Linked DNA regions of Homo sapiens: all the other regions are linked to region 1. The links come from fine-mapping of genetic effects on gene expression. A gene starts in region 1. Each other region holds a variant in brackets. All regions are shown on one strand. Distances are between the middles of the regions. Region 1 holds the start of ZNF557 (zinc finger protein 557). Region 2 overlaps LOC124904625 (a long non-coding RNA gene). Region 3 overlaps RFX2 (regulatory factor X2).

The links. PIP is the estimated chance that this variant, and not a neighbour inherited with it, causes the effect. A credible set is the group of variants that fine-mapping cannot tell apart.
Region 2: its variant is the best candidate, but not a certain one, in a credible set for the expression of ZNF557 in blood mononuclear cells (TOPMed, PIP 0.76).
Region 3: its variant is the best candidate, but not a certain one, in a credible set for the expression of ZNF557 in lung (GTEx, PIP 0.79).

Annotation. Positions count from the first base shown.
Region 1 is chr19:7,063,977-7,074,781 of GRCh38, forward strand. It overlaps ZNF557 (zinc finger protein 557), which reads left to right and starts at 5,727. Exons shown (of 8, transcript NM_024341.3): 1 at 5,727-5,797; 2 at 6,586-6,677.
Region 2 is chr19:7,087,931-7,097,239 of GRCh38, forward strand. It overlaps LOC124904625 (a long non-coding RNA gene), which reads right to left. Exons shown (of 3, transcript XR_007067110.1): 2 at 4,365-4,521; 3 at 113-1,521. It overlaps ZNF557 (zinc finger protein 557), which reads left to right. Exons shown (of 8, transcript NM_024341.3): 8 at 1-38. Among named protein-coding and RNA genes, the nearest start is that of ZNF557, 23 kb to the left of the region's middle. The variant C/CGTG (reference allele first, on the strand shown) is at 4,226.
Region 3 is chr19:6,082,776-6,093,580 of GRCh38, forward strand. The region is part of intron 1 of RFX2 (regulatory factor X2); the gene reads right to left. Among named protein-coding and RNA genes, the nearest start is that of RFX2, 22 kb to the right of the region's middle. RefSeq lists enhancers at 4,005-4,506, 4,428-4,497, 4,507-5,006, 9,797-10,502. The variant G/A (reference allele first, on the strand shown) is at 4,664.

The DNA of each region.
Region 1 (10,805 bases):
CATGTGGTATGATCATGGCTCACTGTAGTCTTAACCTCCTGAGCTCAGGTGATCTTCCTGCCTCAGCCTCCCAAGGAACTGTGACTACAGGCGCATGCCACCACACCTGGCTAATTTTTGTATTTTGGGTTTTTTTGGTAGAGATGGGGTCTCACTATGTTGCCCAGCCTGGCCTCAAACTGTTGGCCCCAAGTGATCCTCCCGCCCTGGCCTCCCAAACTGCTGAGATTACATGTGTGTGCCCAGTCAACATTATTAACAATAGCAAGGATGGGAATAAAACAGAACGTGCAGTGGATGCTGTGAGTCTCGACCCAGAGTCCTGTCCATGGCCAATGCCTCCATCCCCCAGCTGCTGAGAATACTGACTGCTGACAGTTCATAGCTGTGTGCCTTACTGGAAACATCAGGATTACAGGACGCCAGGAATTCCGCAACACAGAGAAGTACCCCATCCTAGAATATGACTTTCTCAGGGGCATCCAGAGACCAGGCTCACACCTATAATCCCAGCAATTTGGGAGGCCAAGGCGGGCAGATCACCTGAAGTCGGGAGTTTGAGACCAGCCTGACCAACATAGAGAAATCCCGTCTCTACTAAAAATACAAAATTAGCGGGCGTGGTGGTGCAGGCCTGTAATCCCAGCTACTTGGGAGGCTGAGGCAGGAGAATCGCTTGAACCCGGAAGGCGGAGGTTGTGGTGAGCTGAGACGGCGCCATTACAAACAAACAAAAAACCAAAACAAAACAAAAAAACCAGAGACCAATGACTGTCAGATGCTAGAGATACAAAGAGAAAATTTACTAAAGAATTTACTTCTGCCTTTCACACCAAAAGAGAGAAATCTCTGGTTTCCAACACTTCCTCAAGACAGTGAACCCTTTCCAATACACAGAAGACTTTTACTTTAGTAAATTCTGGATTGACCTTTTTTTTTTTTTTCCTACTTGCTGGATCGCAAGGTGGAAGAATTGTGGAGCTTGCCCATCAAATTCTGCCACTGCACTCCAGCCTGGGTGACAGAGGAGACTTGGTCTCAAAAATAAAAATAAATAATAAATGTATACATTTTGATGGGTTTGGACATATGCACACACTTATGGTGCCACCACCACAATCGAGGTACTAAATATATTCATTCATGTCATGCCCTTTTCAAAGTACAAGGACCAGGTCAGGAGCAGTGGTGGCTCATGCCTGTAATCCCAGCACTTTGGGAGGCCAAGGCAGGAAGATTGCTTGAGGCCAGGAGTTCAAAACCAGCCTAGGCAAAATAGCAAGAGCCTGTCTCCATAAAAAAGAAAAGAAAAAGAAAAAAATGAAAAATTAGCTGGGCATGGTGGCATACACCTGTAATCTCACCTACTCAGGAGGTCGAGGTGAGCAGATCACTTGAGGCTAGGAGTTCAAGACCAGCTGGATAACATAGCAAGACCCTATGTCTACAAAAATGTTTTAAATTAGCCAGATGTGGTGGTGTGCACCTGTAGTCCTAGCTCTTCAGGAGGCTGAGGCAGAAGGATCACTTGAGCCCAGAAATTCGAGGCTACAGTGAGCCATGATGGAGCCACTGCACTCCAGCCTGAGCAGCAGAGTGAGAGATCCTGTCTCAAAAATATATATATTATTACTGTTAGTAAAATTAGAAATTAGATGGTAAATTAAACTTTCTAACATTAATTTTTATAGGTTATAAATTTTTATAGGTATGCATCCATCTCTGTCTAGATATTAAATCTGATTTATTCGGCTGGGTCCACTGGCTCACGCCTGTAATCCCAGCACTTTGGGAGGCCGACGCAGGTGGATCACCTGAGGTCAGAAGTTCAAGACCAACCTGAGCAACATGGTAAAACCCTGCCTCTTTTTAAAAAATTAAAAAAAAAAAAAGACTACATAATATGACTATGTGTTAGTAGATGAGTGATTAAATAAATTTTGGTACAGCAATTAATTGGAATATCATACCACTTATTTAAGACTTGGCTAAACACTCATATCTACCTGGAAAAAAGTCCATGGTCTGTTAATTTTTTAAAGTAATCTCCAGAATAATTAGTATATAGTATTATAGTATTTTTAAAAACTATTTTAAAACTCTCAATATAGGAATATATATTGTGATAAAATGCTTTTTCTAGTATTTATGTAGTAAATTATATTATTACATGTCTTAAGTTTAATTTTTTGTAGAGCAAGGACTATAGTAATGGTCACCTCAAAGTCAAATTAGAGAAGGGAAAGGGAGTTTTATCTTATTTTTTACTTTAATTTTTTTTTTTGAGATGGAGTTTCACTCTTGTTGCCCAGTCTGGAGTGCAATGGCGTGATCTCGGCTCACTGCAACCTCTGCCTCCCAGGTTCAAGCAATTCTCCTGCCTGAGCCTCCCGAGTAGCTGAGATTACAGGCACCACACCCGGCTAATTTGTTTTGTAATTTTAGTAGAGACAGGGTTTCATCATGTTGGCCAGGCTGGTTTCGAGCTCCTGACCTCAAGTGATCCACCCACCTCTGCCTCCCAAAGTGCTGTGATTACAGGCATGAGCCACCACACCCGGGAAAGGGAGTTTTGAATTGTGTTTTACATACTCCATATTTGTGAGAATGAGCATATATTATTTTATTAATTTTAAAAATCTAATTAAAAACTTTTAAATAAAACAACATTAAGAACTATGAAATGTAGGGGCCAACCCCACAGGGTCAGTGGGTTTTTCTCCCTGTGTGTGGAGACAAGAGATTGTAGAAATAAAGACAAAGAGATAAAAGAAAAGACAGCTGGGACTGGGGGACCACTACCACCAAGATGCAGAGACTGGTAGAGGCCCTGAATGCCAGGCTGTGCTGATATTTATTGGATATAAGAAAAAGGAGCAGGGTAAGGAGTGTGAGCCATCTCCAATGATAGGTAAGGTCACGTGGGTCACGTGTCCACTGGACAGGGGGCCCTTCCCTGCCTGGCAGCCGAGGCAGAGAGAGAGAGGGAGAGAGAGAGACAGTTTACGCCATTATTTCTGCATATCGGAGACTTTTAGTACTTTCACTAATTTTGCCACTGCTATCTAGAAGGCAGAGCCAGGTGTACAGGATGGAACATGAAAGAGGACCAGGAGTGTGACCACTGAAGCACAGCATCACAGGGAGACCGTTAGGCCTCCAGATAACTGCAGGCGAGCCTGATTGATGTCAGGCCCTCCACAAGAGGTGGAGGAGTAGAGTCTTCTCTAAACTCCCCTGGGGAAAGGGAGACTCCCTTGCCCCGTCTGCTAAGTAGCGGGTGTTCTTCCTTGATACTGACACTACCGCTAGACCAAGGTCCGCTTGGCAACAGGCGTCTTCCCAGCCGCTGGCGTTACCGCTAGACCAAGGAGGCCTCTAGTGGCCCTGTCCGGGTATAACAGAAGGCTCGCACTCGTCTTCTGGTCACTTCTTACTATGTCCCCTCAGCTCCTATCTCTGTATGGCCTGGTTTTTCCTAGGTTATGATTGTAGAGTTAGGATTATTATAATATTGGAATAAAGAGTAATTGCTACAAACTAATGATTAATGCTATTCACATATAATCATATCTATGATCTGTATCTAGTATAACTATTCTTATTTTATATATTTTATTATACTGGAACAGCTCATGCCCTCGGTCTCTTGCCTCGGCACCTGGATGGCTTGTTGCCCACAATGAAATATGAAAAATTTAGCACACAGATCACCATATGTTTCCTCATCTATAAATAGTGATAGATAGTAACACCTTCCTTATAGGTCTCTGTGAAAATATTTAGGGATAATGTATGTAAAACTGTTTATTACCAGGCAGGTTGGAAAGTAATGTCCCATTCATTTGTCCACTAGGATGGCCATAGGGTTTTTGGTTTTTTTTCCTTTTAATTCTTGAATTCCAGAGTCTTCAAATACATTCCATTGTTGTAAAGTGAATCATATTCACATTTTTTCCCTAGAGTTTAGCGATTCCTTTTGCATACAAATTCAGGCTGTATGTGTTCACACATAGATCTCAAATAACATCTTAATTTTCACAACGAAAAGCTCCCTTCCTCACCCTGTAGCCTGGCTCCTAGAAGCAACTTTTTTTTTTTTCTGATAGTAATTACATATTTGTAAGTTAGGTATTTATACTGCTTTTTCATTTATCAGCTTTAAACTATATTGAATTACTTTCTTCTCCGAAACAATTAGCACATAACTCTTACGTACTGTAAAACTAATTTTCCTCACCAAACATAATCATTTAAGGAATCTGGATAAATCAAAATTCAATGTTTATCATTTTATGACATCAATATTTACCATTTGTAGCATCTAAACCTTAGCCAGACATGTAACAAGTAGTATGTCATTAATAATTTTTTCTCATTTTTTCTTTTGATCTCTTAAATTTTAAAATTTCCTTTTTTATTTCTTCCTATGAATCCAACACCTATTTTCTCCACCAGAAATGTAGTTCTCTTTTCAGTAGATCCAGATGTGCACTAGACAATTAATCAGCTTTGGCTTTCACTTGGAGACATCCCTCCCTAGTCCTCCCTCCCCTCGTCCCCCTCTGGATGGGAGAAATATGCATACATGATCCCATTTTTGAAAGAAATTAGGAAGCTCAAAATCACACAAAAAGGCTGGGTGTGGTGTGGCTCACACCTGTAATCTCAGCACTTTGGGAGGCCGAAGTGGGGTATGACTTGAGGCCATGAGTTCTAGACCATCCTGGGCAACACAGACCTCCTCTCTACAAACAAATACAAAAATAGTCAGGCTTGGTAGTGTGGGAGGCCCGGGTGGAAGGATGGCTTGAGCTCAGGAGGTCGAGGCTGCAGTGAGCTATGATTGCACCACTGCACTCCAGCCTGGGCCACAGAGTGAGACCCTGTCTCAAAACAAACAAACGAAAAGCCACACACACACACACACACACACACGCCCTAAATGTGTGGCTATATCATTTTAACAGGCGGTGAATGTGGAGAAATGACTGAAGAAAACTTTAAAGAGTTCATTTTGCATCCTGCTACCTGAACAGTTTTAAAATCCACAAAAAGCCCTACACCCAAAAACTGACCTCCACCAAGTCTTGTCCTCTCAGCCTACTAGCTCAACCCCATTCCATGCCCCACCACTGCCTTATCTTGTCCACATACTCGCCCACCAAACCTGGTATTAACCCACAGCAAGATCCGCCCATCAAACCTAATGCCCGCCCACAACCTCGCCCCGGAACTTAGTCTCTGTCCTGACAGCCCCGCCCCCATGCCTGGTACCGCCCACGGTCCCGCCCCAGAACTTCTCCCCACCCCCGGAGCTGATCTCCACCCACACTCAGCCCTGCCTCCAGGCCTGGTACCGCCCACAGCCCCGCTCCAGAGTTGGTCCCCGCCCCCGGAACTGGTCCCCGTCAACACTCAGGCCCGCCTCCAGGCCTGGTACCGCCCACAGCCCCGCTCAAGAGCTAGTTCCGCCCCCAACCCTGCCACAGACCCGCGCCAGGACGACCCTGCCTCCGCGGCTGTCCCTAGCCAGGGCCCAACCTGGTTCTATTAATAACTAAGCAAACTAGAACACCTCAGCCGGAGGCTGGGGTGCGCGGCTGCTGCACCTGCAGCCTGAACCCGGGGGTCCTGACACGCCGCATTTTGGGCTGGGACCAGCTGGAGCCGGAAGCGGAGGTGCAGTGTGGCTAGCCGGAGACCGGAAGCGGAAGCGCGCTTGTGTCTTGTGAGAAGAGCCGCGCTTGCAGCGTCTGGGAGAATCTTTCGGTCTCCGCGAGAGGTGCTTCATTCCGTGAGTCCGAGTCCAGAGAGGGGCCCCAGCCGCGGGCCTGCGTCCCTCCCGGGAGCCGGGTTTCCGCCCCTGAGGCCTCGGGCTGTGCGCTCAGTTAAGCCCGAAGCTGCTGTTTCCTCCGGTGTCCGGGCCCCGCGCCCCTGTCATCCTCACTCTGTCGTCCTCACCCTGTCGCCCTCACCCGGGGCGATTCTGCGCCCCAGGGGACTTTTGGCTATAGTTGGAGACGGTTTGGGATGTCACAAAATGGAGGGTAGGAGGGACTGTGCTACTACTGTAATCTAGAGGGTGGAGGCCAGGGATGCTAGCAGCTCAGCATCCTGCAGCGCGTAAAGCAGCCGCCGCCAGCAAAGACTCATCCAGCCCCAAATGTCATTAGTGCCCAGGTTGGGAAACCCTGCTGGAGGGCATTAAAATCTCTGCAGTCCTGAATACACTGTAGAAATTATTTAGAATTCAGCCGAGTCCACTTATAAGGCCTAAAGTGACGAATTTAAAGCATCTGGAGTCACCATACAATCTCCAGCCAAATGAGTTAAGCAAGTCAGATGAAAACAGCTTTAAGCTTCTTGTCCCATTTTAGGGACCAGATGGCTGGATAGGAATCTGGTGAATTCAGGCACAGCCAGTAGCCTGGGTTCTTATTCTTTAAATCAATTTTTTTTAAGTGAATGGGGTGGTCTTTCTATGCAACAACTGTATTAGTCTCAGTAAATACATTTTACTATACGTACATATTACTCCCTACAAAAGGCCTCATAAGCGATTTTTGTGCCCTTTTTATTTAGACGAAAAAAGTATAATTCAAGCTCAGATTTGTGTTGAAACCAGCCTCAAGTTTCACCTATCCTCACTGATCCGTGGACTTCTGTATGATCAGGTAGGTACCGTGTAGAACCTGCAAGTTGCAAGACTCCACTGTGTAGAAAACCTGTGAATGGATTTTTCCTGTGTTCAGGTTGTAAACACAAGGACTCACTAACAGTGAGGGTATTTTTTTTTTTTTTTTTGAGACAGAGTCTCACTCCGTTGCCCAGCCTGGAGTGCAGTGGTGCGATCTCAGCTCATTGCAACATCTGCCTCCCAGGTTCAAGCAGTTCTCCTGCCTCAGCCTCCCAAGTAGCTGGAATGACAAGGGTGCACCACCACGCCCAGCTAATTTTTGTATTTTTAGTAAAGATGGGGTGTTGCCATGTTGGCCAGGCTGGTCTCGAACTCCTGACTTCAGGTGATCCACCCACCTCGGCCTCCTAAAGTGCTGGGATTACAGGTGTGAGCCACGAGTGAGGGTATCTTAAAAATTATTTGTTTGATGCCTTATATTCAAGAGAAGGATACTAAGGGGTGTGTGATAATGTGTGTCAAAATAAGTCAGTAAATACAGCTATATGCAAATCAGTACACAAAACATGTAAACACTATTTAAAAGTTTTTTTTTCAACCTTCCAAGACATCTCAATTTTTCTTTTATTTTTTTCTTTTCCTAACAGGCCTGCCAGCCTGTAGACTTATGCTGTATAATAAGGTAGCTGCTGGTCCATGCGGTTGTTTTAATTTAAATGTAGACCAATTAAGATTCCATAAAATTTTAAATTCAGCTTCTCAGTCGCACTAACCACATTTCAAGTGCTTGACAGCGACATGTGGTTAATGCCCCTATTGAACAGCAAAGATTAAGATCATTTCCATCATCCCAGAAAGCCCTGCTGGGCGGCATTGTTCTAGTCTCTTCCCATCTGTCCATTGCAATGAAGCCAGAACGGCTATTGTAAAAGATAATTTGTGGCCAGGAGCAGTGGCTCAAGCCTGTCTGTAATCCCAGAACTTTGGGAGGCCGAGGTAGGTGGATCACCTGAGGTCAGGAGTTCAAGACCAGCCTGGCCAACAGGGTGAAACCCCGTCTGTACTAAAAATATATAAATTAGCTGGGTGTGGTGACTCTCTTGAGCCTGGGAGGCGGAGACTGCAGTGAGCCAAGATGGCACCGCTGCACTTCAGCCTGGGCAACAGAGCAAGACTGCATCTCAAAAAAAAAAAAAAAAAAAAAAAAAGCTGGGCATGGTGGCTCACGCCTGTAATCCCAGCACTTCGGGAGGCCAAGGCAGGCAGATCACGAGGTCAGGAGATCGAGACCATCCTGGCTAACGTGGTGAAACCCCGTCTGTACTAAAAATACAAAAAAAAAAAAAAAGATTACCCGGGCGTGGTGGCAGGCGCCTGTAGTCCCAGCTACTCGGGAGGCTGAGGCAAGGGAATGGCATAAACCCGGGAGGTGGAGCTTGCAGTGAGCCGAGATCATGCCAGTGCACTCCAGCCTGGGTGACAGAGCGAGACTCCGTCTCAAAAAAAAAAAAAAAAAAAAAAATACAGCCAGGCACAGTGGCTCACACCTGTAATCCCACCACTTTGGGAGGCTGAGGTGGGCAGATCGCCTGAGGTCAGGAGTTCGAGACCAGCCTGGCCAACATGGCAAAACACTGTCTCTACTAAAAATACAAAAATTAGCTGGGCATGGTGGTGGGCACCTATGATCCCAGCTACTCGGGAGGCTGAGGCAGACAGAATTGCTTGAACCCAGGAGGCGGAGGTTGCAGTGAGCCGAGATCTCACCATTGTACTCCAGCCTGGGTGACAGAGCAAGACTGTCTCAAAATAAATACATAAAGATAAATTTGCTTTAGTCACTCGCCTGCCTGAAAAGCCTTTGCTGGCTCTCCACTGCCTCTCATGTTCAAACTCCTCACCACTCTTTATAATACCTTTCAAAATACAACCTTTCCCGTGCACTCTGGCCCCTTATTTGTCCACATGCTCCAAACTGTGAACTTGGCTTCCTAAGCAGCTTGCTTTCCTGCCTCTGCACGTGCACTTTCCACTGAGCAAGACCCTACCTCGACTCTCAAGACTCAATTCAAATGTTCTTAGTGTTTTTCCTTCCAAGGCTTCCCAGTCCCCTTCTTCCCAGATCCTGGGTTGGATGCCATGTGCCCCTCTGCCATATCACATATCACTCTGAAATGCAGCAGCAGGTCTGTGTGTGTGTCCTGCTCCCAGAAAGCCAGTTCTTAGATGACAGGGATCTTCCTCCCCTCCATCTCCAGCACCCAGCTGGGGGCAGGTATCAATAAAACGTGAATGAGGGGTCAACGTCGGGACCCTAGGGCTGCAGAAGGGATTTGAGAGGAATAACTGGGTGAGGAAATGCTATGCCTGGTTTGGACTTGGGAGGGAAGAGGGGGCGACCCACCAGGGGCTCACCTGTGCAGAGTTCTCTTCTCTACCGTTTGTGCAACACAGCTGCTGGAAGAGCCCACTCACAAACAAGTATAAATACATGGAACTGTAGAGAAATAATACAGATATTTGTTTTTTTGGTTTTTTTTGTTTTTTTTTTTTTGAGATGGAGTCTTACTCTCACCCAGGCTAGAGTGCAGTGGCATGATCTGGTCTCACTGCAACCTCTGCCTCCTGGGTTCAAGCGATTCTCCTGCCTCATCCTCCCAAGTAGCTGGGATTACAGGCACCCACCACCATGCCCAGCTAATTTTTTAAATATATTTTTAGTAGAGACAAGGTTTCACCAACTTGGCCAGGCTGTTCTTGAACTGCTGACCTCAGGTGATCCGCCCACCTCGGCCTCCCAAAGTGCTGGGATTGCAGGCGTGAGCCACTGTGCCTGGCTATAATACAGATTTTCTTGCATGTCATAATACTAAAACTTTCAGGCTTTTACATATAAGTACAAATATATAAACTTTTCACATGTATATGTGAATTTTGGGGGTTCTGTTAACACCACAGAGACCAGATGTCAGAGACACTTGGCAGCTATATTAACTGGAGGGTGGGGGCTGTGAGGCTGCAGGCAGGAATGGGAAAGAGCCTCCCATCTCTGCTTGGCTCCAAGTACCAGCGAACAACTGGCCTGTGGGGAATGGCTCTCCATTCAGTCCTCTCCCAATCCTTCTCTCCCCGGAGATTGGGGGTATGGGGGTCACCCAGGATAAATTCCCTGGGCAAGAGATCTAGAAGGAAGCCAGGGCCTGAATGCTACATCTCAATACAAATTCCTAGAGAGACTGAGTGGCCCTGCCTTCCATGAATAGCCAGCACCGTCCACCCTCTACAGCTCTGTTTTGTCTACCTGGCCCAAACTCTTACAAGTCTCTAACTGCAGACAGCGCCTGCCCCCGCCCCCACCAACCCCTCCCACACACACCCTTGACCACTTTTTTTTTTTTTTTCCAAATGGAGTGTTGCTCTGTTGCCCAGGCTGGAGTGCAATGGTGCAATCCCGGCTCACTACAAGCTCTGCCTCCCAGGTTCACGCCATTCTCCTGCCTCAGCCTCCCAAATAGCTGGGATTCCAGGTGTGTGCCATCACGCCCAGCTAATTTTTTATTTTTATTTTTTTAGTAGAGATGGGGTTTCACCATGTTAGCCAGGATCGTCTCGATCTCCTGACCTCGTGATCCGCCCGCCTCGGCCTCCCAAAGTGCTGGGATTATAGACAGGAGCCACCGCGCCTGGCCAGCCGCTTTCATCTTTGTGTGTATATACACACACACACACACACACACACACAGCCCTTCTTTTCTCATAAAAAAGGAAACATTCCATATATGCTATTTGGTACTTTTTTTTCCCCTTAAATTTACTGACGATAATAACCTCTATTGATATCTAGAGATCTTCTCTCTTTTTTTTTTAATGGGTGCACTGTAATGCCACAGTGAATAATCTTACACAACTTTTACATTTGTGTATCTTACAGATCGATTCTTAGAAGTTGCAGGAACCTAGGGTCTCTGATAGAAAATGGCTGGAGCTCTGCTGGGCTGGCATGAGAGTGGGGAGTGGGGAGGAGGAAATCAACTGAAATGAGGGGTAGTGACATCTGAGCTGGGTGAGGTGGAAACCAGGAGGAGGGGGTGGTCAAGGCAGATCACAGGCTGGAGAGGGGGTGACCGAGGCAGGGCACGGGCTGGAGGGGGGTGACCGAGGCAGG
Region 2 (9,309 bases), 23 kb after region 1:
TATATTAAAGTCTTCCACTAGCATGGTAGATTAACAAATTCTTTCTGTAATTCTGTCATTTTTACTTTATATATGTTTATGTGTAATGTAACTAGGTGCGTAGAGGTTTAGATATTCTCCTGTGAATTTATTTATTTTCAGTAGGGGCCATACCTTTTCATACCAAATAATTGTAATATGAAAATATATTAACAAAAAGAGATCAAACATTTCGCTAGCCCATCCTATAGACCAGGCGCTCTTCAAAGTGCCTTATAAATATTAACTGCGTCCTCACTATAAGCTTGCAAACTGTGCTATTACTGTCTCCAACTTACAGATGGGAAAACTGGCATGGAAATGTCTAGGTTGCTTGCCTGAGTTCACCAGCTAGTAAGTGGTAGAGCACAGATTGGAATCCAGACAGGTGATTCTCATAACCACTAGCCTGTTCATTGAGTACATTCCATGTGGCTAAGCACTGTTTGAGATGCCATGTCTAGAGCAGTGAATGAAACTCAAGTTTTGCCATTGAGGCACTTACATCCTAACGGGGAGGGGTGAATTATAGAAAAATCAACAACATGGCCGGGCGCTGTGACTCACGCCTGTAATTCCAATACTTTGGGAGGCTGGGGCAGATCATGAGGTCAGGAGTTTGAGACCGGCCTGACCAACATGGTGAAACGCCATCTCTACTAAAAATACAAAAAAATTAGCTGGGTGTGGTGGTGCGCTCAGCTAATCAGGAGGCTGAGGCAGGAGAATCGCTTCATCCTGGGAGGTGGAGGTTGCAATGAGCCGAGATCGCGCCACTGCACTCCAGCCTGGGCAACAGAGCAAGACTCCATCGAAAAAGAAAAATCAACAATATTCATGTTGTGCAGAAAAATAAAGCATTGTGAGAGAGTTACGGAGGGCTGGGGACTTTCCATTTTATGTAGCATAGGAAGGAAAAGGCCCCCAGTTAAGGTGCATTTGAGGAGAGACTATTGAGTAGGAACTTGTGGCAAGAGGACTGTTGGCATGCAAAGACCCACAGCACAGAGGCCAGTATGACTCAGGTAAAATAGGGATTCAGGGATTAGAGGGTAATCGGAGATGCAGATCCTGATCTTGTGGGGTTTTATAGGTCATTGTTAGGGCTTTTCCTTACATGTTCAGGAAGTTGGAATATCAAGAGTCCCAGCAGGAAACAGTTGACACACACGTCAACTGGGATGATTCAAGCGCAGTTTATATCAAGGGGCTCCTCACAGAATTGTGAACAGGATGTAGGGAAACCACAAAAGGTACTTGAAATGGAACATCGGTCTTCTCCCCACCTCAGATACGGGTGCTTCTGGTTCTCCAGCCTTCAGACTCAGACTCGCAACTTACACCATTGGCCCTCCTGGTTCTCAAGCCTTTGGACTTCACACTGGGGTTTACACTGTTGGCTCCCCTGTTTTCAGGTCTTTGAGCTTGGACTGGAGCAAGACTACCAGCTTTCTTGGTTCTCCAGCTTCCAAACAAATGGCAGATCGTAGGACACCCATAAGCCTGAAGGGACAAAGGAAGAGAACTGCAAGTTGTTGTTCAAGCGAGGAGAGGGCTGCATTCCAGGAGCTGACAGGAGGTCAGTGAGGGGCAACATCCAGCCTCGAGTTCTGCAAGAAATAGTAAGGGTCGGCCAGGCACAGTGGCTCACACCTATAATTCTGGCACTTTGGGAGGCCGAGGTGGGTGGATCACTTGAGATCAGGAGTTCAAGACCAGCCTGGCCAACATGATGAAACCCATTCTCTACTGAAAATACAAAAACTAGCCGGGTGTGGTGGCATGCGCCTGTAGTCCCAGCTATTCAGGAGGCTGAGGCAGGAGAATTGCTTGAACCCGGTAGGTGGAGGTTGCAATGAGCCAAGATCATGCCATTGCACTCCAGCCTGGGTGACAGAGTGAAACTCCATCCCCACCCCCCCACCACCACCAAAAAAGAGAAAGAAATAGCCAGGGCCAGCCCTCCTTGTCCTTCATTCTTCTTATATCATATTTGGGTTCCCCATTTGCCAAACTCAACCAAAAGCCAATAAGGTAAGGGAGTTCGTTGATAGCATTCATAGTAACTAATCATCCCAAGTACAGCAGGGTAGAGGAGGTGAATCTGCTGGGGCGAATGGAAGATACCCAGTATTGGTCACTCCTTTTGCTTCTCAGAATCTACTCATGCCCATCACCTGGATGGAAAGTTCATATCCAAGCCCAGGAATTCTATCAGTTGCTCAGCTACCCTGGGGTGGTGTCCATGCACTGATACTCCCCGATGAAGCCTAACATAGTTGCCAACACCAGTGTTTCCTGTATAGGATGAGGAACAGAGCCATTGGGGAGGAAAGCAAAAGAAATAATTAACCTGGCCAGGCGCAGTGGCTTACCCCTGTAATCCCAGCACTTTGGGAGGCCGAGGTCGGTGGATCACGAGGTCAGGAGTTTGAGACCAGCCTGGCCAACATGGTGAAACCCCGTCTCTACTAAAAATACAAAATTAGCCAGGCACAGTGGTGGGCGCCTGTAATCCCAGCTACTCAGGAGGCTGAGGCAGGAGAATCTCTTGAACCCGGGAGGCGGAGATTGCAGTGAGCCGAGATCATGCCACTGCACTCTAGCCTGGGTGACAGAGTAAGACTTCATCTAAAAAAAAAGAAAAAAGAGAAGTAACCTAAAGGACTTGGTTCCCAGAGGGAAACACTTCCACCAAGAGACACAGTAAGAGTCTCATCGGATGTTAAACTGTGACTTCTATGAGACCAGCACACAAGGAAAGAAGTCACCATACTGACTTAGGTAATTAATGCTATCATCCATAGAATCTGAGGCTGCTGTTACATGATGAGTGCAGGGAGGAAAACATTTGGCATTCACGGAATCCATTGGGATGTCTCTTACTATTCTTTCCCCAATTTTAAAGATAAAAAAATTTTGGCCAGGCGTGGTGGGTCACGCTTGTAATCCCAGCACTTTGGGAGGCCGAGGTGGGCACATCACAAGGTCAGGAGATCGAGACCAGCCTGGCTAACATGGTGAAACCCTGTCTCTACAAAAAATACAAAAAAATTAACTGGGCGCGTTGGCAGGCGCCTGTAGTCCCAGCTACTTGGGAGGCTGACGCAGGAGAATGGCGTGAACCCAGGAGGCGGAGCTTGCAGTGAGCCGAGATCGCGCCACTGCACTCCAGCCTGGGCAACAGAGCGAGACTCTGTCTCCAAAAAAGAAAAAGATAAAAAAATTTCACCAGCTATGTCCTGAGAAGGGCATGGTGAAGACCCCGTAGGCATAAGGATCTGGAGCAGCTCTCCAGGTAAGCCACCTAGACCAGCAGGATCTAGGTGAGAAGGAAATCTAGAATTTTCACCCTAGTCAAGGGTAAAGGGAATCTGGAAGGTGCAAGTAAAGGAGTGTGATAAGCATCAATTGCATCTCTGAGACTTGTTCAGGTGGAAAGGGCTGTCTACAGTTTGTCCCACTGATCTTCCTCTTGTCAGTTTCTCCAGGCAACGGGACCAACCTGGATCCTGAGGGCACTTACTTTAAGAATCCTGGGGCCGGGCACAGTGGCTCACGCCTGTAATCCCAACACTTTGGGAGGCAGAGGCGGGCAGATCACTTGAGGTTAGGAGTTCGAGACCAGCTTAGCCAACATGGTGAAACCTCATTTCTACTAAAAATACAAAAAATAGCTGAGTATGGTGGCACATGCCTATAGTCCCAGCTACTCCAGAGGCTGAGGCAGGAGAATCACTTGAACTCAGGAGGCAGAGGTTGCAGTGAGCCAAGATGGTACCACTGCACTCCAGCCTGGGCAACAGAGGGAGACTCTGTCTCAAAAACAAAACAAACAAAATGAATGCAGGGCATCTGAGTGGCACACATGGTGGACCACAGTAGGTACAGTGGTGGCACTACCCAGCAAAAGAGCTCTTCACCCAATGTGCTAGAAGCCAATACTATGACATCAGATTTTTGAGAAAAGGAAAGGTTTGTATTGCAAGTTAACAAGGAGACAGGAGTCCAGCTCAAATTTGTCTTATGCTGACTTTAAGGCAATAATTTTCTTAGAAAAGGTGTAGGGCGTGGATTCTGGGATTAGCAGGCGATTGGTGGGAGGAAAGGTCTGTTAAGTCCTCAGGCAGGTGCAATGATCTCTTCATGCCTCCCCATGGGTTCCATGTGCAAAGTCATACTAACTCAAGGGAGTTTGTATGAAACA[C/CGTG]GTGGAAATTTGCACTGTGACATCAGCAAGCTCATTCTGCACAAACTCCATTTGGCCATGTGGGTTCTCACAGATTTTAGGCAGTTTTGTTACAAGTGGAGGCAGTTTCAGCGTTTTAGCAAGTTATTTCTTTTTTTACCTGCCATCCTGCAAACTCAATGAGAGGTGAAGCCAGCTGGACTTCCTGGGTCGAGTGGGGACTTGGAGAACTTTCCTGTTTTACAAGAGGATTGTAAAACACACCAATCAGCACTCTGTAGCTAGGATTGTAAACCGCACCAGTGAGCGCTCTGTAGCTAGCAAGAAGATTGTAAAATGCACCAATCAACAGTCTGTAAAACACACCAATCAGCAAGATCCTGAAAGCAGCCAATTGCAGGGAGGATTGAAAAAAGGGCACTCTGATAGGACAGAAACAGAACATGGGAGGGGTCAATAAGGGAATAAACGCTGGCCACTCCAGCCAGCAGCGGCAACCAGCTCGGGTCCCCTTCCAAGCTGTGGAAGCTTTGTTCTTTTGCTCTTCACAGTAATCCTTGCTACCGCTCACTCTTTGGGTCTGTGCCATCTTTAAGAGTGAAGGTCTGTGGCTTCTTTCTTGAAGTCAGCGAGACCACGAACCCACCAGAAGGAACCAGCTTCCAACACATCAAGAATTTCTGCTAGTCTTTGCTTTAACACTTTAGGCATGGTTTCAGTGGCATATTTCCCAGATTCTTCCTTTAAGACTAAGGCACTAAGGCCAGGCGTGGTGACTCACGCCTGTAATCCCAACACTTTGGGAGGCTGAGGCAGGTGGATCACGAGGTCAAGAGATCAAGACCATCCTGGCCAACATGGTGCAACCCCGTCTCTACTAAAACTACAAAAATTAGCTGGGCGTACCTGTAATCCCAGCACTTTGGGAGGCCAAGGCCGGCGGATCACGAGGTCAGGAGATAGAGACCATCCTGGCTAACACGGTGAAACCCCATCTCTACTAAAAATACAAAAAATTAGCCAGGCATGGTGGCGGGCACCTGTAGTCCCAGCTACTCGAGAGGCTGAGGCAGGAGAGTGGCGTGAACCTGGAAGGCGGAGCTTGCAGTGAGCCGAGATGGCGCCACTGCACTCCAGCCTGGGCGACAAAGACTCCATCTCAAAAAAAAAAAAAAAAATTAGCTGGGCGTGGTGGCGTGTGCCTGTAGTCCCAGCTACTCAGGAGGCTGAGGCTGGAGAATCGCTTGAACCTGGGAGGCGGAGGTTGCAGTGAGCCAAGATCTTGCCACTGCACGCCAGCCTGGTGACAAAGCAAGACTCCATCTAGAAAAAAGAAAAGACTAAGGCACTCCCCTAGCTGCTGGAGGTGTTGCCTGATGATGGTGATGCTGCTGTCCTCTCTGGGAACTCCCCAAGGCCCAGAGGAAAGTGCCCAACCCAAGATTATGCTCTCTCTCCAGGGGTTGCCTACTTCCAGTGACTGGTTGATGTAGGGGGTACAAAGGTCCAGTGCCTTTGTTTCAATGTAGGACACCCCTGAAGGGCAACCCCAGCACCAGAACTCCCTGTGGGATCGACGGCAGCCTCAGTTGACAAGTTACATGTCAGCCTCATCTGTCCCCTCCGCTTCTCGCATGCCTTTAAAGATGTTGTTCCCAGGAGTTTTATCCAATAAACAAAAAATTGCCAGCACAAAATCTGTTCCCAGAAAACCTGATCCGAGATAAGATCACTCTATCAGGGTAAAGAATCCATTCAGGGCCGGTCTCAGGAGATCGAGACCATCCTGGCTAACACAGTGAAACCCTGTCTGTACTAAAAATACAAAAAATTAGCCGGGCGTGGTGGCGGGCGCCTGTAGTCCCAGCTACTCAGGAGGCTGAGGCAGGAGAATGGCGTGAACCCGGGAGGCAGAGCTTTCAGTGAGCCGAGATCGCGCCGCTGCACTCCAGCCTGGGCGACAGAGTGAGACTCCATCCCAAAAAAAAATAAAAATAAAAATCCATTCAGATAAGGGACTGGCAGAGAGAAAGCAGAATGTGGAATGGATGTGGAAGAATTAAATTCAGTCCTGAAGACCAGGTCCCAAAGCAGGAATAGAAGACAGCTATGCTTTGGGTTTGGGTTTTTTAAAAAATCTTTAATTTTTTCCGCTTTTTCCCTGGTTCCCCACCACCACCATCACCATTTTATATGAAGAGTCCTGGTTGTGGCCAAAGCTTAAGGTTTCTGATGGGAATACGACCAAATGACATTATCCCAACAGTAGCTTCCTTTGTATCTCTTTTTTTTTTTTTTTTTTTTTGAGATGGAGTCTCACTCTGTCACACAGGCTGGAGTGCAATGGTGCCATCTCTGCTCACTACAACCTCCGCCTCCTGGATTCAAGCGACTCTCCTGCTTCAGCCTCCCGAGTAGCTGGGACTACAGGCACACGCCAGCACACCCGGCTAATTTTTGTATTTTTAGTAGAGATGGGGTTTCACTATGTTGGCCAGGCTGGTCTTGAATTCTTGACCTTGTGATCCGCCCACCTCGGCCTCCCAAAGTGCTAGGATTACAGGCGGGAGCCACCGCGCCCGGCCCCCTTTGTATCTTATGTAGGGACATGAACTTAGCGCCAAGTGAAGGACAAGAATTGATATCCAAAATCCAATAGATTTTTCTTTTAAATACCTGAAAGTGAAACTGGCCCAATTTTCCCATATTGCTGATGTTTATGGTTTCCTTGAATAAACAAACAAATTGATCTTCCCAATCTTAAAACTTAAGAAAGTTACATTTATCTTATCTGAGTTCCTTTCTCAGGAAACCAACCATCAGGCCTCCCAGATAGTATCTAGGAGCTGAAACGCACCAGAATACTGCATTTGTACAGTGAGACATCAGACCCATCACCCATCATGATTGCCTAACTGACCACCTGCTTCCTGTTGACCAACTCCTCTTCCTTACCCTTCCCTAATTCCTGTATTCCCACACATGGTAACATTTCTTCCCTGCTATATAAACCTCAAATTTTAGTTGGTCAGGGAGATGGATTTGAGATTGTTCTCCCACCTCCTCAGCTGCAGCAGCTGATTAAAGCCTTCTTCCTTGGCAATACTCATTGTCTCAGCGATAGGCTTTCTGTGCAGTGGTGAGCAGCAGGACCTAGATTGAACCCCTGGTGTTTCAGCAACAACATAGTTCATCACCAGCAGAACTGCACTTCAAGAAACACTAAAGAAAGTTTTGGGCCAGACACGGTGGCTCACACCTGTAATCCCAGCATTTTGGGAGGCTGAGGCAGGTGGATCACCTGAGGTCAGGAGTTCGAGACAAGGCTGGCCAACATGGCAAAACCCCATCTCTGCTAAAACTACAAAAAAAAAAAAAAATTAGCTGGGCGTAGTGGCGGTCGCCTATAATCCCAGCTACTTGGGAGGCTGAGGCAGGAGAATTGCTTGAACCCAGGAGGTGGAGGTTGCAGTGAGCTGAGATCGCACCGTTGCTTTCCAGCCTGGGCGATGGAGCGAGACTCTGTCTCAAAAAAAAAAAAGAAGGAAGGAGGGAGGGAGGGAAGGAAGGAAGGAAGGAAGGAGAAGGAAAGAAAGAAGGAAAGTTTTGGGGCTGGAGGAAAATTATTCCATGTGGAAGCAATTCCAGAAATATATAAGGATAATCAGGAAAGATAAAATGTGAGCAAATACAAATAAATATTGACTGTATAAATCAAGCCTGTATAGTTTTAACACTTTTATACGTCTAAATCTTTTTTTTTTTTTCAGACGGAGTCTCACTCTGTTGCCCACACTCACCTCACTGCAACTTCCGCCTCCTGGGTTCAAGCAATTCTCTTGCCTCAGCCTCCAAGTAGCTGCAACTACAGGTGTGCACCACCACGCCCAGCTAATTTTTGTATTTTTAGTAGAGATGGGGTTTCGCCATGGTGACCAGGCTGGTCTCAAACTCCTGACCTCAAGTGATCCATCTGCCTTGGCCTCCCAAAAGTGTTAGGATTATAGGCGTGAGCCAACGTGCCCAGCCCTAATTTTTTTTTTTTTTCAAATAAAAAGAGTTTTAAATCACATTGAACTGGTCCCTTAAAACTAGAGATAATAGAAAGCATGGCAAGCCATTTCCCAGTCCCCCTAAGACTAGAGATTATGGAAGCCCCAGCAAGTGATTCTCACAATCTGCATACAGCAGTAGAGCTGACAGAAGCCCTAGCAGGTAACCACCAGTCACCCTCAAAACAAGAGGCAACAGGATGCCAGATCTCCACCCCTCAATCACTTACAAACACAAAAGATGGAGTCCAAACATGAAGACCTCCGTCATCGCGAAACTACTCCAGCAAGCACCCCTCAGTCACGTCCAAAACTATAACAGAAGTCCCTGAAATGACCCCTTCAGATGCCCCTCAACACTAAAGAATGGGGACTCCAAGCCCAATGGCCTACCCAGTCTATACCAACAGTACAGGCAAGCGGAGACCCAGAATATGACCCTCCCCAACTAGAGATAAGTGGAACCCCATCCAATAATCCCTCCATCCTCTCCCCAAACAATACACAGTAAGGCCTCTATCTGATAAATGCTCTTGACCCTTCAACACTAGAAAAAAATGGAAGCCCCAGGCACTGGCCCTCCAGTTACCTCCAACATCAGAGACAATGAAAGCTTCGCCAAGTGATTCCCCGTATCGCTCCTACATTAATGATGGAAACTCCAAAAACCAATCAACCCTCAATCCTCTACACACTCAAGAAAGGAACTCCAGGCTGGGTATGGTGGCTCACGCCTGTAATCCCAGCACTTTGGGAGGCCAAGGCGGGTGGATCACGAGATCAGGAGTTCGAGACCAGCCTGACCAATATGGTGAAACCGTCTCTACTAAAAATACAAAAATTAGCCGGGCGTGGTGACACGTGCCTGTAGTCCTAGCTACTCAGGAGACTGAGGCAGGAGAATCTCTTGAACCCGGGAGGCAGAGTTTGCAGTGAGCCAAGATCACACCACTGCGCTCAAGCCTGGGAGACAGAGCAAGATTCTGTCTCAAAAAAAAAAAAAAAAAAAAAAAGAACTCCAGCAAATGCCACCATTCTTACCCACTACCGCTG
Region 3 (10,805 bases), 980 kb before region 1:
TGTTGAGACTACTCAACTCTGCCTCTGGACAGTAGGAGGAGTGAGTGTGGCCGCTGCACTCAGCGCTTTTCAGAGCCATGCTAGAGCCTGGGGCAAAGAGGAAAAAGAAGCAGCAGTGCTGATCCTGTCTTTATGTAAAATTTCAACATTTTGCTCATCATGGAATTTTTTTCCCATTATTTTTTTGAGACAGGGTCTCATTCTGTTGCCCAGGCTGCAGTGGCACAAACACGGCTCGCTGCAGCCTCAACCTCCCTGGGCTCAGGGAGTACGGGCACGTGCCACTACCCCCAGCTAATTTTTGTATTGTTTGTAGAGACGGGGTTTCACCCTGTTGTCCAGGCTGGTCTTGAACTCCTGGCCTCAAGTGATCCACCCGCCTTGGCTTCCTAGAGTGCTAGAATTACAGGCATGAGCCACTGTGCCCGGCCTTCATCATGAAATTTTTTGGCATTTATTTTGATTTTTTAAAATACTGCATTAAAACATTGTGTATCTTGATGACTGTGGATTTTTGTAGGCACTGCCTTAAATTTTGCATCCCAGGCGAGGGCCTCACTGCCTCATGCTAGTTCTGACCCTGGTGCTGGTGCTGTTCCAATAAATCTTTATTTATGGACACTGAAATTTAATTTCATATCATTTTCATGTGTCACAAAATATTTTGTCTTGTTTCCAATCATTTAAAAACGCAAAAAATATTCTCAACTCGTGGAAACTAAAAACAAAAATAAAAACCCACAGTAGTGTGCTAGATGTAGTCTGCTGACCCGTTTTTTTTTTTTTTAATTTTTATTCATTTATTTATTTATTCTGAGGCCGGGTCTTGCTCTGTCATCCAGGCTGGAGTGCAGTGGTGCAAACATGGCTCACTGCAGCCTCCACTTCCAGAGCTCAAGTGATCCTCCTGCTCAGCTTCCCCAGAAGCTGAGACCACAGGTATGTGCCACCATGCCCGGGTAATTTTTTAATTTTTTGTACAGATGGGGTCTCACCATCTTGCCCAGGCTGTGACCCCTATCTTGGATGGCCTTTGGGGGAACATGTCTTACTCATAATTATAGGCAGCGGAAAATGCCTGCTAGCGAGTAGGCACTCAAACGTGTCTGAATAATTTAGTCCCATTTTCTCCATTCTTAAATTACTGTTTAGGTTGCTTTACATTCTCTTCCCAGCCCCAGATCTCCAAATACAGGAGATGAGCACACGTGTCCAGGGCACCCCAGACCTCTTGGGCAGGGAGAATTCTCGGCAGAGAAGACCGGATATGGGAGTGTGGTGTGGGAATCGTCTGTGAGTGCTAAAGAACCGGTCCTCCACCTGCCCCAAGCTTTCCATTAGGCTCAAAAGCAGAGTTAGCCCAGTTAAGCGCATGGAAACTAAATGAGTTCGCTGTGCATTGTTCAGCTATACATGACCACAGGCAAGATAAATATTTAGGGTCTTTATTAAAGCTGTGATCCTCTGCTTTAGCAGGACAGCGTAGGGACTTACTAGAGGCAAACCATAAAAAGCATATGCCTCCTAGTAAAGTAATGCTGGGAAATATGACGAGTCAATTACTCTTTATCATTAATTGTGGTAAAATGTGCATAATGTACAATTTACCATTTTAACCATGTTTAATATACAGTTCAGTAGCATTAAGCACACTCACACTGTTGTGCAACCATCACCTCCATCCATCTCCAGAACATTCTCATCTTCCCAAATTGAAACTTTGTCCCCATGAAACACTCACTCCCTACCCCCTCCCCAGCCCCTGGCACCCACCATTCTACTTTCTGTCGCTATGGATCTGATGACTCTAGGGACCTCCTAGGGGTGGAATCACACTGGATTTGTCCTTTTTTTTCTTTCTTTCTTTCTTTTTTTTGAGACAGAATCTCGCTCTTGTTGCCCAGGCAGGAGTGCAGTGGTGCGATCTTGGCTCTCTGCAACCTCTGCCTCCTGGGTTCAAGTGATTCTCCTGCTGCAGCCTCCCAAGTAGCTGGGATTACAGGTGCCTGCCACCACGCCCGGCTAATTTTATATTTTTAGTAGAGGCTGGGTTTCACCATGTTGGCCAGGCTGGTCTCAAACTCCTGACCTCAGGTGATCCACCACCCACCTTGGCCTCCCAGAGTGCTGGGATTAGAGGTGTGAGCCACTGCGCCCGGCTGGATTTGTCCTTTTGTGTCTGATTTCTTTCACTGAGCATGATGTCCTTAAGCATAATGCATAATGTCCATGTTGCAGCCTGTGTCAGAATTTCCTTCCTTTTTCAAGGCTGAATAGTATTCCATTGTATAGATGGATCACATTTTATTTATCCATTCATTTGTTGGTGGACACTTGAGTTGCTGCCACATTTTAGCTATTGTAAATCATGCTGCTATGAACATGAGTGTACAAATCCCTGTCTGAGTGTACAAATACTGTTTTCCAAAGCAGCTACACTATTTTGCACACCTACCAACAGTTCACATGGGTTCAGTTCCAATTTTTCCATATTCTTATCAACATTTTTCTGTCTTTCTTCTTTTGGGTAACAGTCATCGTAATGGGTGTGAAGTGGTATCTTATTAGGGTTTTGATTTGCATTTCTGCAATGATAACTGGTATGAAGCACCTTTCCAACTGCTTATTGGCCATCTGAATATCTTCTTTGAAGAAAGAGAAATATCTACTCAAGTCCTCTGCCCATTAAAAAATTTTTTTGCTGAGTTACAGAAATTCTTTATCTATTTTGAATATTAACCTCTTATTAGAAATGATTTGGAAACATTTTCTTCCATTCCTTGGGTTGTCTTTTTACTCTGTTGCTACTGTTCTTTGATGCACAAAAGTTTTGAACGCTGATGGCCTAATCCTTCTGTTTTTCCTTTTGTCGTGAGTGCTTTTGATGTCCTATCCAAGAAATCATTGCCAGATCCAGTGTCATAAAGATGTCTCCCTATGTTTTCTGCTAAGAATTTTACAGTTTTAGCTCTTATGTTTAGGTCTTTGATCCATTTTGAGTTAATTTTTGTGTATGTTATAAAATAAAAGTCCTGGCTGGGCACAGTGGCTCACGCCTGTAATCCCAGCACTTTGGGAGGGTGAGGTGGGAGGATTGCCTGAGGCCAGGAGTTCAAGACCAGCCTGGGCAACATAGTGAGACCTCGTCTCTATAAAAAATTTAAAAATTAGCCTGGCATGGTGGCATATGCCTGTGGTCCCAGCTAGTTGGGAGGCAGAAGCAGGAGGATCTCTTGAGCCCAGGAGGCCGAGGCTGCAGTGAGCCATGATTGTACCACTGCACTCCAGCCTGGGTGATAGAACAAGATCCTGTCTCAAAAAAAAAAAAAAAAAAAAAAAGGCAGGGGAGATCCAATTTCATTCTTTTGAATGTGGAAACCCAGTTTTCCCAGCATCATTTATTGGAAAGACTGTATTTACCCCATCGAATGATCTTGGCACCCTTGCAGGAGTAAAATACGGCCATGAGTCGCTTCCTGACAGGGATACGTTCTCAGCAATGCAACCTCAGGCAATTTCATCATTGTGCGAATATCACAGAGTGATACTTACAGAAACCTAGACGCTACAACCTACGTAGCACACCTGGGCTGTATGGTATAACCTATTGCTCCCAGGCTACAAACCTGTCTAGCATGTGACTGCAGTGAACAGTGCAGGCAATTGTAACACAGTGGTAAGTATTTGTATCTCCAAACATGGCTAAGCATAGAAAAGGTACAGGAAAAATACAGCATTATAATCTTATGGGATCACTTGTATATGTGGTCTGCTGTTGACGGAAATGTTATGCATGGCATGACTGCATTATAAGCAAATAATTAAAGTTAAGTAATAACACACAAGAATCTAATCTTGCCGGAAAGGGCACTGTAAAAGTGAATTGCAAGAGAAGCTCACAGGAATTAGATGACTTCTGTGTCTCCCCTTTGACAGTAATGGATGCATCCACGCACACGGCTCATTCCTGTTTTCAGTGATGCGCTTCCTTACTATTATTTGCAAAGGGAATTTGTCTGTTCTGACCACACAACTCTACAGAGATACAAACATCACATGGGCACCTCTGCCTTTTCTGTTTACTACTAACGTAGATTGTCATGTAATTTTTGCCCTTCCATGCCTGTTCTTCTGAGGAGAAATTCCCAGTGTTGAGCAGATTTTGAAAGAGATCCAGACTGATGAAAGATTAAAAACCACTGGGCTACAGCAGTATGTCTTTTTTTTTTTAATCTTTTAAAACTTAAATTCACAAATTTGAGGACTCCAATTCAGACGAGCTTCGTTGTATAAACCAGGCAGATCTGTGGTCTTTAGAAGAAAGTGACAGAATCAGTTCACTTCCTGGGTGGGGACTGAGCACAGGCAGATGGTCGCAGCGGGTCAGAAGCCACAAGCTGCAGAGACAGACTCATGATAGACAGGGCGACAGGCATAACCTTCACAGGGGCGAAGCGAGACGCACACCCGTCTCCAGCAGGGAGCCACAGTCCACAGGTGGCTACTCCTCCCTCCCACTGCCCTGTATTTAGGAATTCAAACAGCCTGGGAAGGGACTGTGCTGATAATTGGCTCTGCTTTCAAAGAACACTTAGGAGATAATTAACCCACAGTCCACCAAGCCCAGGAATTGAGGATCGAGGATCAGAGGAAGCCCAGGAGG[G/A]AGATGCCTGCCAGAGGCGAGTAAAGGGACTTAGAGAGAAGTGCAGTTTTTTCTAGCATCCACCCATCCAACCCAAGGAAGCCCATCTGATTTACCACATCTAGCCAGTGACCTTGATCAGTTCCACAGCCAGGCATTAAGGCGAGTCCCCACTAACTTTCTCACCTCAGAGAAGCCCGATTCCAATTCTAGCCCCTCCCTGGACTCTGTCAGTAATTCCTAGCAATGCCTTCACTCTAAAAAATCCAGCTACAACAAAAGATTCAGATGCTGCAGAATTTATTTTGATTTGGAGGTTTCAGCTCCAAATCAAAGGGCTGATATCATGGAAATAGCTTTTTTGACAGCTAAACAGAAATTATTTTCCTTGATTAGCCATGGCACATTCGCCCTTCTTAGGTGGACAGCGTGTTTTGATACGAAGGTGATGGGTTACAGGTGCTGGGTTTCTCCACATGGGCAGTTTCTCCCCAGGAGTCTCACTCCTTACATCATCATCTAGAGCAGTAATTAATTTCAGAAACCACTCCTGGCTGCCATAAGCTGCACACCCACTTCCAGAACTGGCTTAACCCGCCAGGAAGCCACAGTCCTCAAGGGACAGTCACCCAGAGCTGCATGTTGGTGAGTCAGAGACGAGAACAAAGAGGAAGCAATGACCCCTGAACACAGAGCCCTTCCCAGCCCAGAGTGCTGCTCTAAGCCTAACCCAGGCTGGCCAGGGCCTGAAAGACAAAGAAGAATGCCACAGAGAAGGGCCAGGGCACTACAGCTTTTTTTTTTTTTTTTTTTTTTTTTGAGACGGAGTTTCACTTTTGTTGCCCAGGCTGGACAGCAGTGGCGTGATCTCGGCTCACTGCAACCTCCGCCTCCCGCGATTCTCCTGCCTCAGCCTCCTGAGTGGCTAGTATTACAGGCATGTGCCACCATGCCCCGCTAATTCTGTATTTTTAGTAGAGATGGGGTTTCTCCCTGTTGGTCAGACTGGTCTCGAACTCTCGACCTCAGGTGATCCACCCGCCTCAGCCTCCCAAAGTGCTGGGATTCCAGGCTTGAGTCACCATGCCAGCCCAGCATTTTTTTTTAAAGGCACAGTTCTCATAGGTATAAGAAGGCAACGAAATTCATCCTGCAAGATGGATGTAGCCAAAGACTCTTCTTTAATTACAACAAACTGGAGAAGATAACAAAGTAAATATTATTCCTCTCTCTCTTAGAGAAAGCAAAAATATGTTAAACACCATTGAAGAGCCTAAGGGGTTTTATAAACCTCAAAATCAGCATCACATTCATATACACATGAGTACTAGTCACATATAGCCAAGTAATGTGCGTTAGACCAGGGGGTGGCAAGCTTTTTTTGTAAAATGTGGAATAGTAAATATTTTAGGTTTTGCAGGTCAAGCGCTCGCTGTCAAGATGACTCAACCCCATCCATTGTAGGGTGAAATGACTGTGGCTGTGTGCCAATAAAACTTTATTTATGGTTCCAGTTTTAGTATATTTGCTGCTGAAGCAAGCACAATTTATGGACACTGAAATGTGAATTTCAGATAATTTTGTATGTCCTAAAATATTCTTCTTTTGATTTTTCCAACTACTTAAAAATGTAGGAAAAAAGCATTCTTAGTTCATGGGCTGTACAAAAACAGGCAGTGAGTTGGATTTAGCCCATGGGCTAGTTTGCCCACTCTGTATTAGACTCAGATGTTTGGACTCATGTCTTTAAAACAGAGCCTAAAATAACTCCAAATAAATAAAAGGGCAGGTATCAAATAGCCCATGTAATGACAAATAACCACGCTAGAAATCTGCGTCCAGCAGGTCAGGGACACTCTGGGGGTGAAGACCAACACTCCTGTCCTGTCTCCATCTCAGTGGCGGAGGATGTGGGGTTTTGGGCAGTCTCTGAAAAGGGAGTGTGCACGGGCAGGAGCTGGAGCAATGTCACAGGGAAGGGGGAGGCCAGCCCTCATGTCCTCTGGATTCTGACCCTGTGCTATGGTTGGAATGTTGTGTCCCCCCAAAACTCACATGTTGAAACCTAACCCCCAATATGACGGCATCTGGAGGTGGGGCCTTTGGGAGATGATTAGGTCATGAGCATGGCACCCACAGGAATGGGATTAGGGTCCTTGCAAAAGAGGCCCCAGAGACCTCCCCTGCCCCTTCCATCACGTGAGGACACAGCTAGAAGGCAGAAGCCGAACCAGAAAGCAGGCCCTCCCCAGACACTGAATCTGCCAGTGCCTTGATCTTGGACTTCCCAGCCTCCAGAGCTGACTGCAACACATTCCTGTTGTTTAGAAGCCAGCCAGTCTCTAATATTTTTGTTGTAGCATCTGAATGAACTGTCACCCTCCCTTCCCTCCACCACCCTGTGTAGCTCTTACATGTGCTGGGGACCTTCATGATTCAGGGTCTTTGGGCATTTCACAGAGGAACAGAAACTTGTGGATTAGAGAAAATTATTATATGAGATAACATCTTTGGATTGTTTGTATAAGATAACATCTTTGGATTGTTTGTTTGTTTGTTTTGAGACAGGTTCTCGCTTTTGTCACTCAGGCTGGAGTACAGTGGCATGTACATCGCTCACTGCAGCCTCAACGTCCCAGGCTCAAGAGGTCCTCCCACCTCACCCTCTGGAGTAGTTGAGACCAGAGGCCCACACCACCACACCTGGCTATTTTTGCATTTTGAATTTTTCATAGAGACAGGGTTTCACCATGTTGCCCAGGCTGGTCTTGAACTACTGAGCTCAAGTGATCTTCCTGCATCAGCCTCCCAAAGTGCTGAGATTACAAGCATGAGCCACCATGCCAGCCCAGATAACACCTTTGAATACAAATTTCTCAGCCGGGTGAGGTTGCAGTGAGCCAAGATCACGCCATTGCACTACAGCCTGGGTGACATAGTGAGACTCTGTCTCAAAAAAAAAAAAAAAAAAGAATACACATTTCTCCAAAGAAGAGCTATAGACAGATGAAAGCACATGAAAAGAGGCTCAGCATCATCAGTCATTACAGAAACACAAATAAGAACCACCATGAAACACCACTTCACACCTACGAGGCTGGTTATACTAAAAACAGGGAAAAATAAAAGTGTTGGTGAGGATGTGGAGAAACTGGAGCCCTCACTCCCTGCCGGTGGGACTGTGAAAGGACAATTTGGCAGTTAACTTGCAGTTACCATACGACTCAGCAACTCCACTCCTAGGTATATTCCCTGAAGAAATGAAGCTATATGTCCAGGCAAAAGCTTGTCCACAAATATTCATAGCAGCACTATTCGTAATAGTCAAAAGGTAGAAACAACCCAAATGCCCATCAAGGGATGAATGCATAAACAGATGTGGTCCACCCATGGAGTGGAATACTATTCAGCCATAAAAAAGAATGAAGCTCTGACACAGGCTACAATGTGGATGAACTGCAAAACAATATTACCCAACCTTCCAGGGCTTAAATATATATTTATATACACACAAGTGAAAGAAGTCAGTCACGAAAAAGGTCACATATTGTATGATTCTATTTACAGGAAATATTCAGAATAGGAAAACCCACATAGACAAGAAGCAGACTTGGTGTTTGCCAGGGGCTGGGAGTAGGGGACTGTGATCGACTTCTAATAGGTATGGAGTTTCTTTTCACGGTGATGGAAATGTTCTGGAATTAGAGAGTGATGATGGCTTCACAACACTGTGAAAATCCTAAAATCCACCAAATGAAAACCATTTTAAAGTGGTTAAAATGGTAAATTTTGGGCTGGGTGTGGTGGCGCATGCCTGTAAACCCAGCACTTTGGGAGGCTGAGGCTGGGGATTGCTTGAATCCCGGAGTTTGAGACCAGCCTGGGCAACATAGTGAGACCTTGTCTCTACAAAAAATTAGCCAGGCATGGTGGCGTGCACCTATAGTCCCAGCCCAGAAGGTGGAGGCTGCAATAAGCCATGATCGCACCACCCCACTGCAGCCTGGGCGACAGAGCAAGACCCTATCTTCAAAAAAAAAAAAAAGGTGAATTGTATGTGAATTTTATCACAATTGAAAAAAGAAGATGACGCTGAGTGCTGGCAAATGCCAGCCACGAAGAGAAACAATGATATAGAGACTAAAAGCATTCCTGCATTCCTCACCTCAGGAGAAGTAAAATGCAATATTCTCATAATTATGAGAAAATTAGGCACGAGAACGTACAAAGTACAATTCGAACATTTTCAGAAATAAACTTCAGTAACAAACAACAATATCTGTTGGACACGATCCCTAACAGACTGTTTGTGAAAATCTCGAGTGATGGGAGAGAAGTAGGTGTGGGGAAATCTGTTTCAGGAACTCTGAGTCTAAGCCGCAAAACGTGTTTACATGAGACCCATCAACAGAATAAGCCGAGGGACTGAATGAGGAATGAACTGCGGGAGGTAGGCATTTTACAATCAGGAATCTGAAATGAGACTATGTCCCAGTTTGGGAGTCAGAGAATTGTAGACTTTCTGGGCCAAGCCCTCAGTGAACATTAACCCTGGAGAATAAAGGAGCAGGGAGTTTCTAGAAGATTCTACATCCGGGAGTGGGGGGAGGAAAACTGTGGAGGTTGGTGTCTCAGAAATCTTAAAGGATGTTAAAAAAGAAAACCATGATTCACTGAATTTAAAATAGGAGAAAAGCTCAGATTAAGAATGAATAACTTTATCGAGGATTAGGTCACAGGAATTCTGGTTTTAAATTGTTTACGTAGAGTTAAAGAGAAAGAATTTGTACCATAAGAAGAAGCCAACTATAACAGCAAGGAAGACATTCAAGAACAGGATCTAGTGGCTGCACAACTGAGCTCCCTCCTCGGGCTGGAGAGAGCAGGGGCTCAAGTCCCTAAACCCGGGCCATGGCAGCAGGGGGTCAATGACCCAAGAAAGCAGCTTGGGACGGAGGGTGGCCCCGCAGGCTGCATGCTGGGCTGCTGGAAGGAAGGTCTTCCGCTGAGAAGGCAGAAGAACGAGTGCTCTGCTGGAGAATAAAGGTAGCAGAGTTTACAGCCACGCGTCCAGAGGGAATTCAGAGGGGCGGGGCAGGCCGTTGCTAGGCTCGAGTCCGCGCAGGAGTCAAGGGCGACAAGCATGAGCTTGTGGCTGCGCAAACCAGCCCAGCAGCCAGGCCTCCCCAAGAGGCACACGCGAGCATGGGCGCAGCTCACGGTGACAGAATGAGGCTGAGTCAGTCACACGTGGACTGTAGGATAGGCAGAGCTAAGCTGACAGGGAACACGTTCCAGAGGAGGGGCCGGGGGAGGGAGAGGCTGCCAGGGGGTTTGAGCACCTCCTAAGTGGCCCACAGAACACTGTGGGTGAGTTCAGTGTGCATTCTCCTGGAGGGTGGGGACACAAGTTTTCACGAGGCTGTCAAAGGGTCCGGGACCTGCTACTCTGAAATGTTAAGAAGCTAAAGAGTTTGTGTTGGCCTGAGAGGCAAGGAGTGGGACGGGGACTTAGGGCAACGGACACGCATGTGGTAAAAAAAAGGCCCTGTGGTGTCGGGGAGGCGAGGAGGTGGCCCCGGTCCTGCTGGAGGCGGCGTAGTTTCAGGAGAGGACAAAAGTGGAAAGTCACCTTTATAGTAGGAATGGAGCGCAGATGTAAGTGGCGGCAAGCTAACGCCAAGGGGAGGAAGTCCATCAGGCTCAGCAATTTCCCTGCCGCGAGTGGGCAAACATCTCACACGTGTACACAAATATATTTGGACACGGGTGCTTACTGCAGCATTGGCGGTAAAGTGGAAGGTATAACCAAAATGCCTATAAATAAATAACTAAGGCCGGGTGCGGTGGTTCATGCCTGCAGTCCTAGCACTTTGAGAGGTTGAGTGGGGCAGATTGCCTGAGCTCAGGAGTTCGAGGCCAGCCTGGCCAACATGGTGAAACCCCGTCTCTACTAAAATACAAAAAATTTGCCGGGCGTGGTGGCACATGCCTGTAATCCCAGCTACTCTGGAGGCTGAGGCACGAGAATTGCTTGAACCCGGGAGGCAGAGGTTGCAGTGAGCCGGGATTGTGCCACTGCACTCCAGCCTGGGCGACAGAGCAAGACTCTGTCTCAAAAAAATAAAATAAAATAGAATAAAAGGCTAAGTAAGTACTTAGG